Regions from separate parts of the Homo sapiens genome. Here all the other regions are reported to be linked to region 2. Evidence: microRNA targets listed by miRTarBase, many of them from high-throughput screens and not tested one by one. Region 2 holds a microRNA gene; each other region holds the end of a gene's coding sequence.
The links. The annotated mature microRNA hsa-miR-3120-3p reads CACAGCAAGUGUAGACAGGCA and lies in region 2 at 1,942-1,962, shown strand. An mRNA with a match to its seed (bases 2 to 7 or 8) in the 3' UTR can be bound and repressed. Matches are read on the target gene's strand: a 7mer-m8 pairs with bases 2 to 8, a 7mer-A1 pairs with bases 2 to 7 and ends in A, and an 8mer does both.

Region 1 (5,000 bases), not on the chromosome of region 2:
CAGGCCTGAGCCACTGCGCCCAGACCAAAAGTTTTTTTAAATGGATGTTTTACAGATAGAACTAAATTCTTCATTTACCTCACTTAATTTCTGAAAACACTGTGTCCTCCAACTGCTCTGTATTCCCAAAGATTAAAATTAGCCTTGGGGAGCAGAGCTGGTTCCTCGTAAACCCCTGTGAGTGCCCAGACCCTTTGGAGGAGGTTCTCAGTGGGCTTTTGCCTGCTCCCACAGATGTAACCCACCCTTCCTGCTGCTCCTAAGACCACCATGAGGAAGGCTGGGAATTGGCTCTTGAATTAATTTGTTGGTATTTTTAAGAATAGCTATTAAAGTACTGTTGTTAATTTTCCCAAGTCTATTTTATTGTTAGTATTTGTCACATTTTCTTTGTAAACAGTGAATTAAAAATATTTTATAGGAATATTCATTCTTATCTAGATTTCCTACTTATATAAAAAAACAAGTGAATGAGATTGTTACAAAGGGTAATTTTGTGTGAGTAGAATAATAAAAGTTGAAATTGAGAAGATGCAATGTTTTAGACTGAAACTGATGGTTGGTTTGTTTTCCCCTTCTTTCTAACAGGCCTTATTCCACTGCTGGGGATTGATGTGTGGGAGCACGCTTACTACCTTCAGTATAAAAATGTCAGGCCTGATTATCTAAAAGCTATTTGGAATGTAATCAACTGGGAGAATGTAACTGAAAGATACATGGCTTGCAAAAAGTAAACCACGATCGTTATGCTGAGTATGTTAAGCTCTTTATGACTGTTTTTGTAGTGGTATAGAGTACTGCAGAATACAGTAAGCTGCTCTATTGTAGCATTTCTTGATGTTGCTTAGTCACTTATTTCATAAACAACTTAATGTTCTGAATAATTTCTTACTAAACATTTTGTTATTGGGCAAGTGATTGAAAATAGTAAATGCTTTGTGTGATTGAATCTGATTGGACATTTTCTTCAGAGAGCTAAATTACAATTGTCATTTATAAAACCATCAAAAATATTCCATCCATATACTTTGGGGACTTGTAGGGATGCCTTTCTAGTCCTATTCTATTGCAGTTATAGAAAATCTAGTCTTTTGCCCCAGTTACTTAAAAATAAAATATTAACACTTTCCCAAGGGAAACACTCGGCTTTCTATAGAAAATTGCACTTTTTGTCGAGTAATCCTCTGCAGTGATACTTCTGGTAGATGTCACCCAGTGGTTTTTGTTAGGTCAAATGTTCCTGTATAGTTTTTGCAAATAGAGCTGTATACTGTTTAAATGTAGCAGGTGAACTGAACTGGGGTTTGCTCACCTGCACAGTAAAGGCAAACTTCAACAGCAAAACTGCAAAAAGGTGGTTTTTGCAGTAGGAGAAAGGAGGATGTTTATTTGCAGGGCGCCAAGCAAGGAGAATTGGGCAGCTCATGCTTGAGACCCAATCTCCATGATGACCTACAAGCTAGAGTATTTAAAGGCAGTGGTAAATTTCAGGAAAGCAGAAGTTAAAGGCAAAATTGTAAATCAGTCGAGATCGGGTGCCTTCAGGGTGGTATGGCTGTATACCAAAATTGTAAATCACTACATGAAGCTTATATATTGGTTTGGCCTGAAAGGTGAAGTGGGGTAGGCAGGGGGCGGGCTTACAGGTTATGGTGGATTCAAAGACTCCCTGATTTGTGATTGGTTAAGGAAGCAAAGCTTTGTCTAAAAACTTGGGGTCCGCAGAAAGGAACATTAAGGTCTGGCCAGGCCCCTCAGGAAGAAACTGAGAGCAAAGAATGGAGGTCAGAGTTTAGTCCCTGGTGTTCCCCCTTATCTGACGTCTGTGTGAATCCATTTGGTGGGGGTCTGGGTTTCTGAAAAGTAGCTCAGGGGCACGTGTTAAGGATGTCTCTAGGTGACTCTAACTTCCCTGGCTATTGTTTGAAACTGTTATGACCTTCTTGCTTATCAGCTTGCTGGTTTCCTTCTCGGGGCGAGCTGGGTGCCTGGAGTTTTCGGTGAAGGAAACTCAAGATTCTCCTTTATTTCTGTGCTTGTGGGAATCCCCCTGGCACACCCCAAAGAGGGGTCCCTGCTCCGTCTCACAGGGATCTTTTTGTATATTTGGCTTAGCATCATACATTTGCCATGTTGTTTCATCATCTGCCTAATTTACTGTTTTTGAATATTTCATTTGTTTCTAATTGTTACTACAGATAATGCTGGGGTGAGCAACTCTGTGTACATAGGTTTATCTCCTATTGGAATATTTTCTTTATATAGGCGTTTTTTTTTTTTCTTTTTTTTTGGAGACAGAGTCTTGCTCTGTTGCCCAGGCTGGAGTGCAGTGGCGCGACCGGAGCTCACTGCAACCTCCACTTCCCGGGTTCAAGTGATTGTCCCACCTCAGCCTCCTGAATAGCTGGGATTACAGGTGCATGCTACCATGCCTGGCTACTTTTTGTATTTTTAGCAGAGACAGGGTTTCACCATGTTGGCCAGGGTGGTCTCGAACTCCTGACCTCAAGTGATCCGTCTGGCTCAGCCTCCCAAAGTGCTGGGATTACAGGTGTGAGCCACTGCACCTGGCCTATATAGGCTTTTTTCTTAAACCTATTTAGTAATGTTTTCCCAAGTTTATTTTTTATTTTTAATTTTTTCCCCAAGTTTATTTTTCTATTTTTTTTTCATGGAAAAATGGGGTAACTTAGCAGTTTCAATATTGAAGACTGAAGTTTAAAAAAAATTTAAATTCAAGGTACTTTTAAAATTCAGTTAGAAAAGTAGGCTTTAAAAATTATTAGAGACAAGAGTACCAAAGCGGTGTGTGTATGTGTGTGTGTGTATGCATGCTTGTGGATTGGAAAAACTTTGGAGACTGATTACTTTTCATTATATATGTGTCACAGTGAAACAGCTTTTATGTGTCATGTAAGATTACTGCTTGCCTCTCTAAGGAAGGTCGTGACTGTTTAAATAGACGGGCAAGGTGGAACCTTTTGAAAGATGAGCTTTTGAATATAAGTTGTCTGCTAGATCATGGTTTGTATTGAACTAACAAGGTTTGCAGATCTGCTGACTTATATAAAGCTTTTTGATTCCTACTAAGCTTTAAGATTTAAAAAATGTTCAATGTTGAAATTTCTGTGGGGCTCTATTTTTGCTTTGGCTTTCTGGTGAGAGAGTGAGGAAGCATTCTTTCCTTCACTAAGTTTGTCTTTCTTGTCTTCTGGATAGATTGATTTTAAGAGACTAAGGGAATTTACAAACTAAAGATTTTAGTCATCTGGTGGAAAAGGAGACTTTAAGATTGTTTAGGGCTGGGCGGGGTGACTCACATCTGTAATCCCAGCACTTTGGGAGGCCAAGGCAGGCAGAACACTTGAAGGAGTTCAAGACCAGCGTGGCCAACGTGGTGAAACCCTGTCTCTACTAAAAATACAAAAATTGTTTAGCTCTGTTTTTCATAATAGAAATAGAAAAGGTAAAATTGCTTTTCTTCTGAAAAGAACAAGTATTGTTCATCCAAGAAGGGTTTTTGTGACTGAATCAGCAGTGCCTGCCCTAGTCATAGCTGTGCTTCAAAAACCTCAGCATGATTAGTGTTGGAGCAAAACAAGGAAGCAAAGCAAATACTGTTTTTGAAATTCTATCTGTTGCTTGAACTATTTTGTAATAATTAAACTTTGATGTTGAGAAATCACAACTTTATTGTACACTTCATTGCAACTTGAAATTCATGGTCTTAAAGTGAGATTTGAATTTCTATTGAGCGCCTTTAAAAAAGTAATACCAAACCATAAAGTTAAAATCTATGTATATTGAGTCATATCTAAAACCACGTATAAACATAAATTGTATTTCCTGTTTTAATTCCAGGGGAAGTACTGTTTGGGAAAGCTATTATTAGGTAAATGTTTTACAAATTACTGTTTCTCACTTTCAGTCATACCCTAATGATCCCAGCAAGATAATGTCCTGTCTTCTAAGATGTGCATCAAGCCTGGTACATACTGAAAACCCTATAAGGTCCTGGATAATTTTTGTTTGATTATTCATTGAAGAAACATTTATTTTCCAATTGTGTGAAGTTTTTGACTGTTAATAAAAGAATCTGTCAACCATCAAAGAGGTCTGCATTATGCTTGCATGTCAAAAACTTTAAAAATCCTATAATCTTCTGTCATTTTCACTGAGTTTCCATGGGAAAGGAATAGTAAATAATGGGTAGTTGAAATATTACTCTTAAGACCAAGACCTGTATCTCCAGTCATATCTGTAATAACATCATCTGATAACCTAAAAGCATAGTATTAGGGATATACGACAAAACCAAAGTGTTTTTGCTGTTGTCACATACCACTCAATACTTTTACACCAGGTTGTCCAGTGGACACCAGCTGGATGTCCTATAATTCAATTCTGACACTGTCTACCTGGAATTGGAGTCAGATCCCACAGGTGGAGGGCTCAGCCCACAAGACTGCCCCCACTCCAGATACCAATCGCAAGTCCCTATACTTCTGACTGGCTATAAAGTGGGGTTCCCGTGACCCTTTCCTTGGTTTTGATTTATTTGCTAGAGCAGCTCCCAGAACACAGAGAAACACTCTACTTATGTTTACCCATTTTTAATTTTATTACTTTATTAAAACTACATATTGGTTACAATACTAATTTATTGTAAAGGATATTTCATTTATTTATTTTTTTATTTAGAGATGGAGTCTCACTGTGTCACCCAGGCTGGAGTGCGGTGGCACAGTCTCAACTCACTGCAACCTCCACCTCCTGAGTTCAAGCGATTCTCATGCCTCAGCCTCCCAAGTAGCTGGGATTACAAGTGTGCACCACCATGCCCAGCTAATTTTTGTATTTTTAGTAGAGATGGGGTTTCACTCTGTTGGCCAGGCTGGTCTCAAACTCCTGACCTCAAGTCATCCACCCACCTCAGCCTCCCAAAGTGCTGAGATTACAGGTGTGAGCCATTGCCTCTGGCTTGTAAAGGATATTTCAAA
Region 2 (5,179 bases):
TGAAAATTGAGTAAAAAATGTTTAACAAAAAAGGTGTTAACTTTATGTTTTAAGGAAAAATATTGAAAATGTTATCCTGGAGTGCCTCACCTTAGGATGACTCTGCTGCCGTCCTAGCTTTCCCTTTGGAGTCTGAAGGACGGGTGTAGTCTCCTTAATGTTCTGGCTAGGTCATTGTCTCATTCTGGGAGCTGTCAAGCACTCTCCTGAGCCTTGCAGGGTCCAGTAGAATAATTCCATACGTGAACTCTCATAGGCAGCATTTGCAACAGGTGGTACAAGGCATTTAAGATTGGGTAGAACGATGTCGATATTCTGTGAGTAATTTTTATATTGTCTTCCTGTTTATATTCTACATTTTGTAAGTATTGTTTAGGACTTTATTTGCTAGTAATGGGACTTTTATTTAAGGCAAAAATCTGCATCGTGCAATGTATCTTGCAGAAGCAGAGATGAATTTTAGCAGATGACATATTGCCATAAGACAAGATTGTTTAAATGAGAGAAATTTAACTTTAATCATATTTGTGCTTTGTAGTTTTGCCCCATCATTCAGTTTTTTAATTAAAGAAACTATAATGTCAGGTTTGGTTAAAATATCATTGTCAGAAAATTTGAAACTCACTGGGATCTTAGCTTTAAGACTGAGACTTTCATTTTAAAAATAAAATAGCTGAATGAAAAATAGTTTGCTTTAGTTAAGAATACATACATAAAGTGTTTAATTGTTAAATGTGAAAAAAGTTTTGAGTAGCCTTGTGTTACATTTTTTAAGCTTGACCAGAATCTAAGAAAGATGAAAATTAATTTCAAATACTGAAGCTAAAACATGTTAATGAACTAAATAAAAGTTGACACATTTCTAATTTTATCCATCTTCCCACCTTTTACCCTTAAGTATTTAAAGTATTCATAGACAAAAGCCATCCCTTATCATTTCACTCCAGTTAACAGTGCATAAACTGAAGTTTGGATATTTTCTCAAAAGATGTGTCAAAATATACATTTCAAGTGCATTAACCACTTTCCTTATGCTTCTGAAGATAAATGAATTGCCTGAACATCTCAAGATCTTGAAAGTTTATAGTGATGGAAGCATAGGTTGCAAGTGAATGTGTTGGCCTTGTAAATTCTACTCCTAGAACTGTAGCATAAGCACCTTCTTAATTAAAGAATGACGCAGTCATAAATTTATGTATACCATGACGCGTGGAAGTATCAAAAATTTCAACTTTCCATATGTCAAAAGAGGAGAAACTATTATTTTAATATAGTTGAACACTAGTTGGAAATAGTAGTCTTTTCACTGTGTTTTGCCCAGACCCAGACTGGCAGAGTTAACCCAGACTGGCAGAGTTAACTCAAAGCACTTGATCCTTTGGAATACTCTTTTTCTCCCTTTTCTTTTCTCTGTCTTTCCACCCTATCCCCTTCCAAAAAAAAAAAAAAAAAAAAAAAATCATGACATAGAAAACCATACTTAGTTTATGGACAAGAATTCTTAGAATAATTTATTCTTTGTTAAGCATCAGACTGAAGTTATATTGTTTTGTTATATTGAGTTTTTATATCAATATAGGGTGCTGCAAAGCTGTGTACAATAAAGGTCAAGGGTAGTGATTTGCTGACAACAATTAGGAAAAGAGAACTATAGAATGCACAGGAACATTTTCAGAAATGGGTTTTATTATATTTCATAGGCACCACTCACTTTACTTTTGGTGGGTTTTAATACTTGAATCAAAATAAAATAATACATGAGTTAAGTATTAAACCAACAGATTAAAACCCCAGGCCCCCGAGCCCCTCATTTTGGTTGTAGCTCTTGGTGTAGATGCTATGGTGTGAGGGCTGCTTTCTTTCAATGGCTGGTTGTCATTCAGGCTGGGTTGTCATGTGACTGCCTGTCTGTGCCTGCTGTACAGGTGAGCGGATGTTCTGCACAGCAAGTGTAGACAGGCAGACACATGACAACTCTGTCCAGCCAGGCCCTTGGTTCCTTCAGGTTTCCTTTGCTCATAGACAGATACAATCAGCCTGTTTTCCAGATTTGGTGATTTTGGAGAGTAAGGGGAAAGGGAGAAAAATACACAATATAATTAAACATTAAAACATTATGGAACTAAAAACAAGTTAGACTTTTGACTTTATTCAGAAAGTACATTTATACATTTGTTCCAAATGTGCTAACATGGATAATTTGCGTAACAGAAAACTCACATTAAAATTTTAAGGAAAAAAAGAGATTAAACACAAGGTTTATTCTTAAGTCCAATTCATATTATTACTGGCCCACATGTAGTCAGAGTTCAGCGTAATTGAACCAGATGTTTTTCCTCTTTGCAAAAAACTGCATATTTTAATACTGAAGTTAAAGATAAAAACTATGTTTATGCATGTTTCTTTTAGTAGATAAGTACCATAACCTTGTCCATGAAAAAGAAAATTATCATTTACATGGAAACAGCAGCCCTTTTCAAAATAATTAATGAGCCTAATTTATTTGGCAACCCAAGTTGCTGACTTTGGTATTTGATGCTCTGATAATAGGATCCTACAAGGGAATATGTTTTTACCAATTATATGTGAAACAACAGGAACCTATTTAAATGTCTCATTTTCCTTTTAAATGCAAAGTTTATAACTGTGGATGTGAAATCAAATTAAAGGCAGTTGTGAGCTTAAGTTATCCACCTCTTAATTAACTATAGGGCCATGCTGTGAATCAAAAGGGTACAAACTGGAAGGCTGTTACTCACAGTGATGCTCAGAATGTGTTTTGGATATAGTTAGTGCAATATAGTTACAAAATAGTACTTAAGAAAAGGCAGAAAAGGCAAATTCATTTCATATCCAAAAAATTAAAACCAGATCCTTTGAAAATTTTTCTTATAATTTATATGAGCTAATAGTGTTAAATATGCAGATATAAAATTTAATTCTGGTGAGTTGAGAGTAATTCTATTTTAATATCAATTATCAATTCACATCTTTAGAAGTATTAAGCAAATTCCCCTCCCCTTTTAAAAACAAAAATATCCAAATAGTCAAAATTCCAGTAAGTAGGACTTCTTAAAAAACACAGCACCAAAAAAACACAGTATTGTCCAAGGATTGTATAATTAGACATTTTCTCAAAGAACTTTAAGAAAAACAAACAGTTTGTGATTTATCTTTAATTGTAAAATTCTGAGAAAATAGCAAATAGAAACTTAATGGAAAGCAAAATAGTTTTAGATACTGAGAAAATTACAATTTTCTACAAATCTGGACTTTTATGCAGTGATTAGGTAAGGTAATGTTTTAACAAAAGCTAATAAGTGCCATTTTCTGTGTATTTATGTAATTTCAAGAAAACAAATTTCCGATTCTGTTTCGGCCATCACTTTCGAGTAAAGGAACTTTTTTTTTTTCTTGACAGAATCAAAAACATGAGTAAACTTGGCTGTTATTTAAATAATTACAAGGTTAGAGTATGCCAAAAACCAGTGCCTTAAAATACTATTGTGTTATTGTTGCTGCATTCAGTGCAACAGAAAGTAATTATAGAGTGATTCACTTACAAAGAGTATATTGGTGGAAATTAAAAATTACTATAATTCTTTATAACTTTTCCTCTCTCTCCCATAAATAATTTGATCCAGTTAACTCTGCTCAATTAAAGGAATGATGCATGCAACCTGAAAAAATAAAAAGAAATATTTGTGAGTTTGTATGTTATGCTTTAATATAAAACAGTTTTATTAAGGCAAGATATAAAAATTTTTTGAGCCAGAAAAACCACAACAGTTTTTCAGGGGAAAAAAAAAATCTTGCTGAAAACAATTGTTCTATTCATAAGGCTTTTGGACAATTTATGTTTCTGATAGATTTTTAAAACACACTTACAGTAACTATGTGACATATGCACACTTCATTGTTATGTTGAACCTGCCCCTAAACTTGTTAAAAAGATGAAAGACTGAAAACCATATTGACCTTTTTTTAATCTCCCAAATTATAGGTTGAATATTAGTTTATTATTACTTAAAATACTAGCTAAAACATAAAAGAGCTATTTGTATTATTATCATACCATGTAATTTTTAGTGTGGTTATTACACCTTGTTTTCTTTTTGTCTTTTATTTCTTAAGGAAAAAAATGTAAGAAAAGAATTGTCTTCTAAGTCTTCTGTAGTGAAATTAAACCAAAGCAACTCCAGGAAACTGGCTGTCACGCTAAGTCAAAAAATTCAAAATGAAGATTTAATTATTTTTCCTAATTTACTTCGTTATCTCTAACTATTAAAACTGATAAAAATTATTTGTAAGAGACCTTTGAAAATGAGTAAATATTTATTTCTACTTAATTTACAGAACATGAAAGTAAGAAGGGATTTGAAGTAAGAAAGTTTCTATCTTAACTCAGGAATTTCCTGTCTCAGGTTAAAGCCTGACCTTCTAGTTATTTTAAGCCAGGATTTCTGAGTGATGGTCTCTTAGTTATTATTTTGACGTTATTGTGATGGGTGGGCTATTCTCCTTAGAGCAGAGTAAAGTGCATTGTTTATAAAGAGCAGATCCCTTACAGAGTAAGTGAAAGCTTTGGCGTCTCTTTACCGAGCATGGATGCTTGTGGATGAGTGAATTTTTTCACATTACCAAGTTGTACTTTTTATATCTTATAACAGCTTAAGACTTCAACCAAAAAAGTGGGGAGAATTCTTTCGTTAGGATTTTTATGCCTAAACTGTTTCCCACAGAGTGAAATACATGGGTGGTCTGTAGGCGAGAGGTGGGGGTAGATAGTATATTTTGGTCTTTTACAAACATAAACATATTATCTGGGCCGAAAGCCCGAATGCCAAGCAGGAAGGATATTAAGCCTATTGACTAACTACAGGAAAGTGATCAGTGTGAAACTTTGTCCTATAGTAAACAGTCTTTCTTTGATTTTGAGATCTGTGGCCTAAAAGAAAAATGAGTTTGAAAATTTAAGTCCACCGTTTTAGATTGATCCTTTTCCAGTTAAGAAATTGTGGTGTTGAAGCTAAGGCTCTGAACTTCCTTTCTCTTAGATGGTGGAAAAGTCCTTTTAACCCAGTACCTAGTCCAATTTATCAATCATTCACATGCTAAAATGAAAAATAATTATGAAATTTCTATGAAGTGTAGTTTGGACAGACCCTGAAACAATTTT
Region 3 (5,000 bases), not on the chromosome of region 2:
CTTGAATTTCTATATGACATTTAGAATCAGCCTGATTTCTACTAGAGGAAGCCAGCTGGGATTCTAATAGAGATTGCGTTCTAGATCAATTTCAGGAGTATTGCCATCTTAACAATATTAAACCTTCCCATTCATGAACGTGGAATGTCTATTTCCTTAGGTCTTTAATGTTTTGTACTTTTCCCCATGTAAGTTTTGCACTTATATTGTTCATTCCTAAATATTTTATTCTTTTTGATGTTATTGTAGATATTTAAGAGAATGTTTTCTTAGTTTCAGATTGTTCATGGCTGGTATATAGAAATACTAGTTTTTGTATGTTAATCTTGTATACTGCAGATGATCAATTCATTTTTCTAGCAGTTTTATTTGGAGATTCCTTACGGTTATCTGTATACAAGGTCATATCATCTACAAATAGACATAGCTTTGTCTTCTCAATTTCAGTCTGGATGTTTTCTTTTTCTTTTGCCTAATTGCCCTGGCTAGAACTTCTAGTACAATCATGAATAAACCCATGGGTTTTCCTAAACGTCCTATATCAGGTTGAGGAAGTTCCCTTCTACCCTTGTTTTTATCATGAAAGTGTTTGTCAAGGTTTTTGTGTCTATTGAGATGATCATGTGTGTCTTTTTCCTTTTATTGATATGGTATCCCAGCTTCTTTTGAAAGCTGAAATCGTAGGATGCCCAACATATAAAACAGGGTGGGAGGCTGCTCTGGTTGAAGCAGTAAGGGAAGCTTGGGGCCGCCAAGCTGGCTCAATGGCCTTTCCTTACCAGGTAGCCTTGGGCTCCACAGAAAACTGAGCTGGGAGCCAAGAACAGCAAGCGGTCCCTGTGGCTCTCCTCCAGAACTCCTTGTTGGGCATGGCTGAGTCAGCCAACTAAGCCCAGACCCTTGGCCTCGAGGAGCCCTGTGGGCAGGGCTGGCTGATTACAAGTACCCAACCACTTTATCAAATAGTAGCTCGTTAGCATCCTGCAAATTGCCTATTTATCCTGGTCCAGGGCTTCAGAGCCAACTCCCCCTTATGCCTCGGGCCAGGAGGTTGATCTTGGGGCTTTGGAGTCCTTAACACTTAAGTCATTTTGATGGTATCATTCCACTAAATGTTAGTAGTTCAGATCTATGGTTACCACAAAGTTTGCACTTCTAAAACCTTGATGATAATCAACCAAAAGTACAGAGGTTCAGTATCTCAGACAGATCGCAGACAGCCCACTGATTACTTTTTGGGAAGAGTGATTAAGAAACTTTATTACAGAAAATGAATGCATCCAACGTCCCCAAATACATTTGTGACAAGAACAGACACACACAGGAGACACAGACAATAGTCACTACATCACAGCCTTGTTCTTTCCGAAGGATAAAATGTCATTCAAGAATGGGGTGAGGTGGTTAGAGGGAGTAGGTACTATCCTTTTAAATGGGGGAAAAAAAAAAAAAAAGCAACAGGTTGGCATCTTAAGAACACAGACAGTGGGCCCAGAAATCAAGCTAAGCCTAAGCCTTAGGTAACATCATGCCACTTACATCATCTCAGAGAAACTAGGGCATTATTCCACTAGAAGAGCAATCTTGCCACAGTGTGAAAACGTTGAGTAGTGATCTTGCTGCCCCAGCTAATGGACCAAGTGGCCTCAACTTGACAGCCTCTTTAAAACTCAATGTTTGCCTAATCAAAGATCATCTGGCTAAACTGCTCCCCCACTTCTGCTTAGCTACTTTGGAAGCACAAAAGTTACCCCTTTCCATCCTTGGCCCTTCCCTGGTTGGTACATCTAGTTATGAGATAGACGCGCACCACTTAACAAATCACTCCCTTTTGACCGCAGGTTGTTTCTCTTCCATATTTGACGAGGCTGGCAACAGCTCCCGAATCTTGGCCTAGCACATCACGAATTGGGAAGCTAAAGCTTTAGCTTAGAATGCCAAGTGACAAGGACATGGCTGAAGCAGGAGGGGAAATTCTGGAACAAGTGCCTCTGGGCAAACCTCACAACCGAGTTTTTTAAATTAGTGGTCATTTTCTAGAACTAGAGGAACACATTCAGGACAAACAGTTCTGATGGGAGAGCGAATGGCTATGAACACATAAGAGATCAGGCTGTGACCGTGACCATAACTCGTACTCATCCAGGACCCGACAGGGCGGAGAGGACACCGCCTCCAGACATGCAAGTTTCTCAACAGTGAATTTTAAGAAAAAGCTGCTTTCTCTTAAAATTAATAGCACAAAAACACTCCTGCGTGTTTCATAGCCTCAAACATACACACCCAAATATTAATGCTGGGCAATAGCAACACTCACCCACAACACAGTACTGTATCCTTCATTGCTACGGACAGTAATGATGTATATACACATCAGCCTTCAAAATGGTATTTAGTGTCACCACTTGCTACTGTGGCCATCTCCCCTCACCCCAACCTGGATAAAATGTTACACTACCCACTAATATAACCACTGACACACAAACCAAGCTCCTTCCAGTTTAACATTGAACATCAATCTACATTTCCAGTGAATGAGCTAAACTTATGAGCAGGCCATTCAACTTTTCATGATACATTTAGTGCTCAGAAATGGTTGATTCCATTAGCCTGCCCTATAGCTCAGGTGGCCCAAGATGGAGCCTATCATCTTCCTTGGGGTGTTTGGTGTTTCCAAGTAGGAGCAAAAAAAGGATACCGTCCCCTACCCCACCACCCCATCCCACATACCCTCACTGGCATCCAGGAGACCAGCAGCAGGCTCAAGACCCCAAATGTTGGGCACCACAAATAATGTGATATGTGCCAGGAGCACGGGGGGTAGGGGTGAAAGAGAAAAACAATAAGGCCTTAATTTTTGACACACCATACACTCTGAAATTGCTGTTTAGCAATGCATTTGGCCCCACAAAATAGGGGGTGGAGGTGGGACAAAAGTTAAACCTAGATAGCCTCAGTCCTAATCACCCACCTTCCTATACCTTGGAAGGCTGCTGAACCTTGCCTATGTCGTTCTCCTAACTCCTCCAGACTTCATCTGAATGCCACTCAGACACAAACAAAATCACACAGTAGCTTCAAGTAGCCCTCTCCTTCATCTCAGCCCTAAGTGAGCTGGCCACTGAGTAATAAAAGAAGCTACCACATTTATAGGGAGGCCAGTCTCCAAATACAATGGAGTGGGGGTTTGTTCACTGCTGTGAGTCAGAAATTGACTGTTATAATAGAGAAGAGTTTTAAAAATGTAATACTGTTTATTTAACTTCAAAAACATTTCAGCATTCTAAACATACAAAAAAAATAACAGAACGTTGCGAATCGTGTTTAAGTACAGGAGGTTCTTGAACTTTCATTGATGCAGTGACTCTTTGCTTTGCTGACAATGAAGAGTTCTATAGTTTGTTTAAAAACAAACAGTTTAAAAACTACCGCACTTAAAAAAAAAAAATATTCTCATGCCAGCTGACCCCCCTTTGTCCACAGCTAAGATGGCAGCAGAATGCTATGTCACTATATACAGAAACAAGACAACCTGAAGCTAAATGGATGCCCCCTGCAGAGTCAACAGGTCCAGCCTCACAGTGCACGCCCTGAGCTACAGCCTCTCCCAAAAGGCATCTTCCCCACAGCCTCAACGCCGAGCAAGGAGCATCAAGGGTTTGTCTCGGTTGTTTTGTTCTTTTTACAAACTATAGATATATACAGTTGAAAACTCAGGATTTCTAGCCAATAACCATAGTTACCACCACCTTACAAATAAAAAGAAAATGCCAGAAACATCTTTAAATGCCTTGTCACACCAACAGCAAAGTGCACAGAGTGAGGAGAACACGAGAGTGCCTTTTCATTTTAAAAATGTTTGGAAATATGTACAACTTTGATACAGTTTCAGGGTGCTCCAGACACCCATGGCCACTTCATGTAAACCACTGACAATTTCTAGAGCACTTTGAGAGACTACAATATGATCGTGATCAAATTTTGTAATTAAACCTAATGAGGGCAACAGACACTTCTCAAATAAGAGATGTGTCAATTACGGCGCTCCCCTACTCTAAGTATTCACAAGGAGACAGATAAACAGTTTCTTTATTCATCCTCCTCCTCCTCCTCCTCCTCTTCTTCCTCCTCCTCTTCTTCATCTTCCTCTTCCACCTTTTTCCGGGCAACTTTAGCAGGACCCTTTGCACCATCAAACTTTCCTTTCGACTTATAGTCAGCAACATCCTAGAGGAACAGGGACACATTTCAAATGAGTATGCGGCTGTTTTAACACAAAGTAGAAACATGCAGTCCTCATCTCAGGTAAGAGGACAGGAATTGAAATCAAGTAAGACAGTGCTGCTATCATATATATCTGAAGTGTTTCCATATATGAATTTGGTTCTTAGCCATTCGAATTTAAAAGTTAGTGGGTGTTCAAGTGTCCTTCAAGTCACATTAGTAGGACTATCAAATCCTCTGTTAACATTTTTTTTTCCTTAAAGAGTAAGGAAAATTTTTCAAGCCTGAAGTTGTCCCCAAAACAAAGACCTGTCAAAAAAAAGCATGAACACCAGCACCCGTAGCTACCTTGCAGGGGGATGGGCCCTTGAGCGCTATGCTAAGTACTCAGCCCAGCAAAGCTGCCACATGCCCTGCAACCTACTGATAGCAGAACCACTGCCTGTTCACCAGTCCAGGCTTCCAGCCCCACCTTACCTTCTCATACTTCTCCTTCAGCTTTGCCGCCTTAGTGATGTAAGGCTGCTTTTCACTGTCATTTAAATTATTCCACATCTCACCCAGCTTTTTTGCCACGTCTCCAATAGAGATGCCGGGGTTTGTGGATTTGATCTTGGGGCGGAATTCTGAACAGAACAGGAAGAATCCAGACCTTGGAAGAATTACATACATTACATGAGAAACCACAAAAAATTTGAGTTAAAGTTGAAATCCCACATTCCTGAGAAGCATCTCCCTCCTACCACTATGACTTCTCCCTAAAGTGAAGTAATCTA

Region 1: the mRNA of SOD2 is a reported target of hsa-miR-3120-3p. Seed matches in the 3' UTR shown: 7mer-m8 at 4,326-4,332.
Region 3: miRTarBase lists HMGB3 as a target of hsa-miR-3120-3p. Seed matches in the 3' UTR shown: 7mer-m8 at 3,803-3,809.

The regions. Positions count from the first base shown.
Region 1 is chr6:159,678,227-159,683,226 of GRCh38, reverse strand. SOD2 (superoxide dismutase 2) reads left to right here. Exons shown (of 5, transcript NM_000636.4): 5 at 589-5,000. The coding sequence ends at 734. Among named protein-coding and RNA genes, the nearest start is that of SOD2, 13 kb to the left of the region's middle.
Region 2 is chr1:172,136,917-172,142,095 of GRCh38, forward strand. MIR3120 (microRNA 3120) reads left to right here and starts at 1,892; the gene lies at 1,892-1,972. All of the region lies in intron 14 of DNM3 (dynamin 3), which reads left to right. It overlaps DNM3OS (DNM3 opposite strand/antisense RNA), which reads right to left. Exons shown (of 4, transcript NR_103486.1): 4 at 1-3,680. It overlaps MIR214 (microRNA 214), which reads right to left and starts at 1,991; the gene lies at 1,882-1,991.
Region 3 is chrX:150,987,004-150,992,003 of GRCh38, reverse strand. HMGB3 (high mobility group box 3) reads right to left here. Exons shown (of 5, transcript NM_005342.4): 4 at 4,702-4,876; 5 at 1,233-4,227. The coding sequence ends at 4,090. Among named protein-coding and RNA genes, the nearest start is that of HMGB3, 6.2 kb to the right of the region's middle.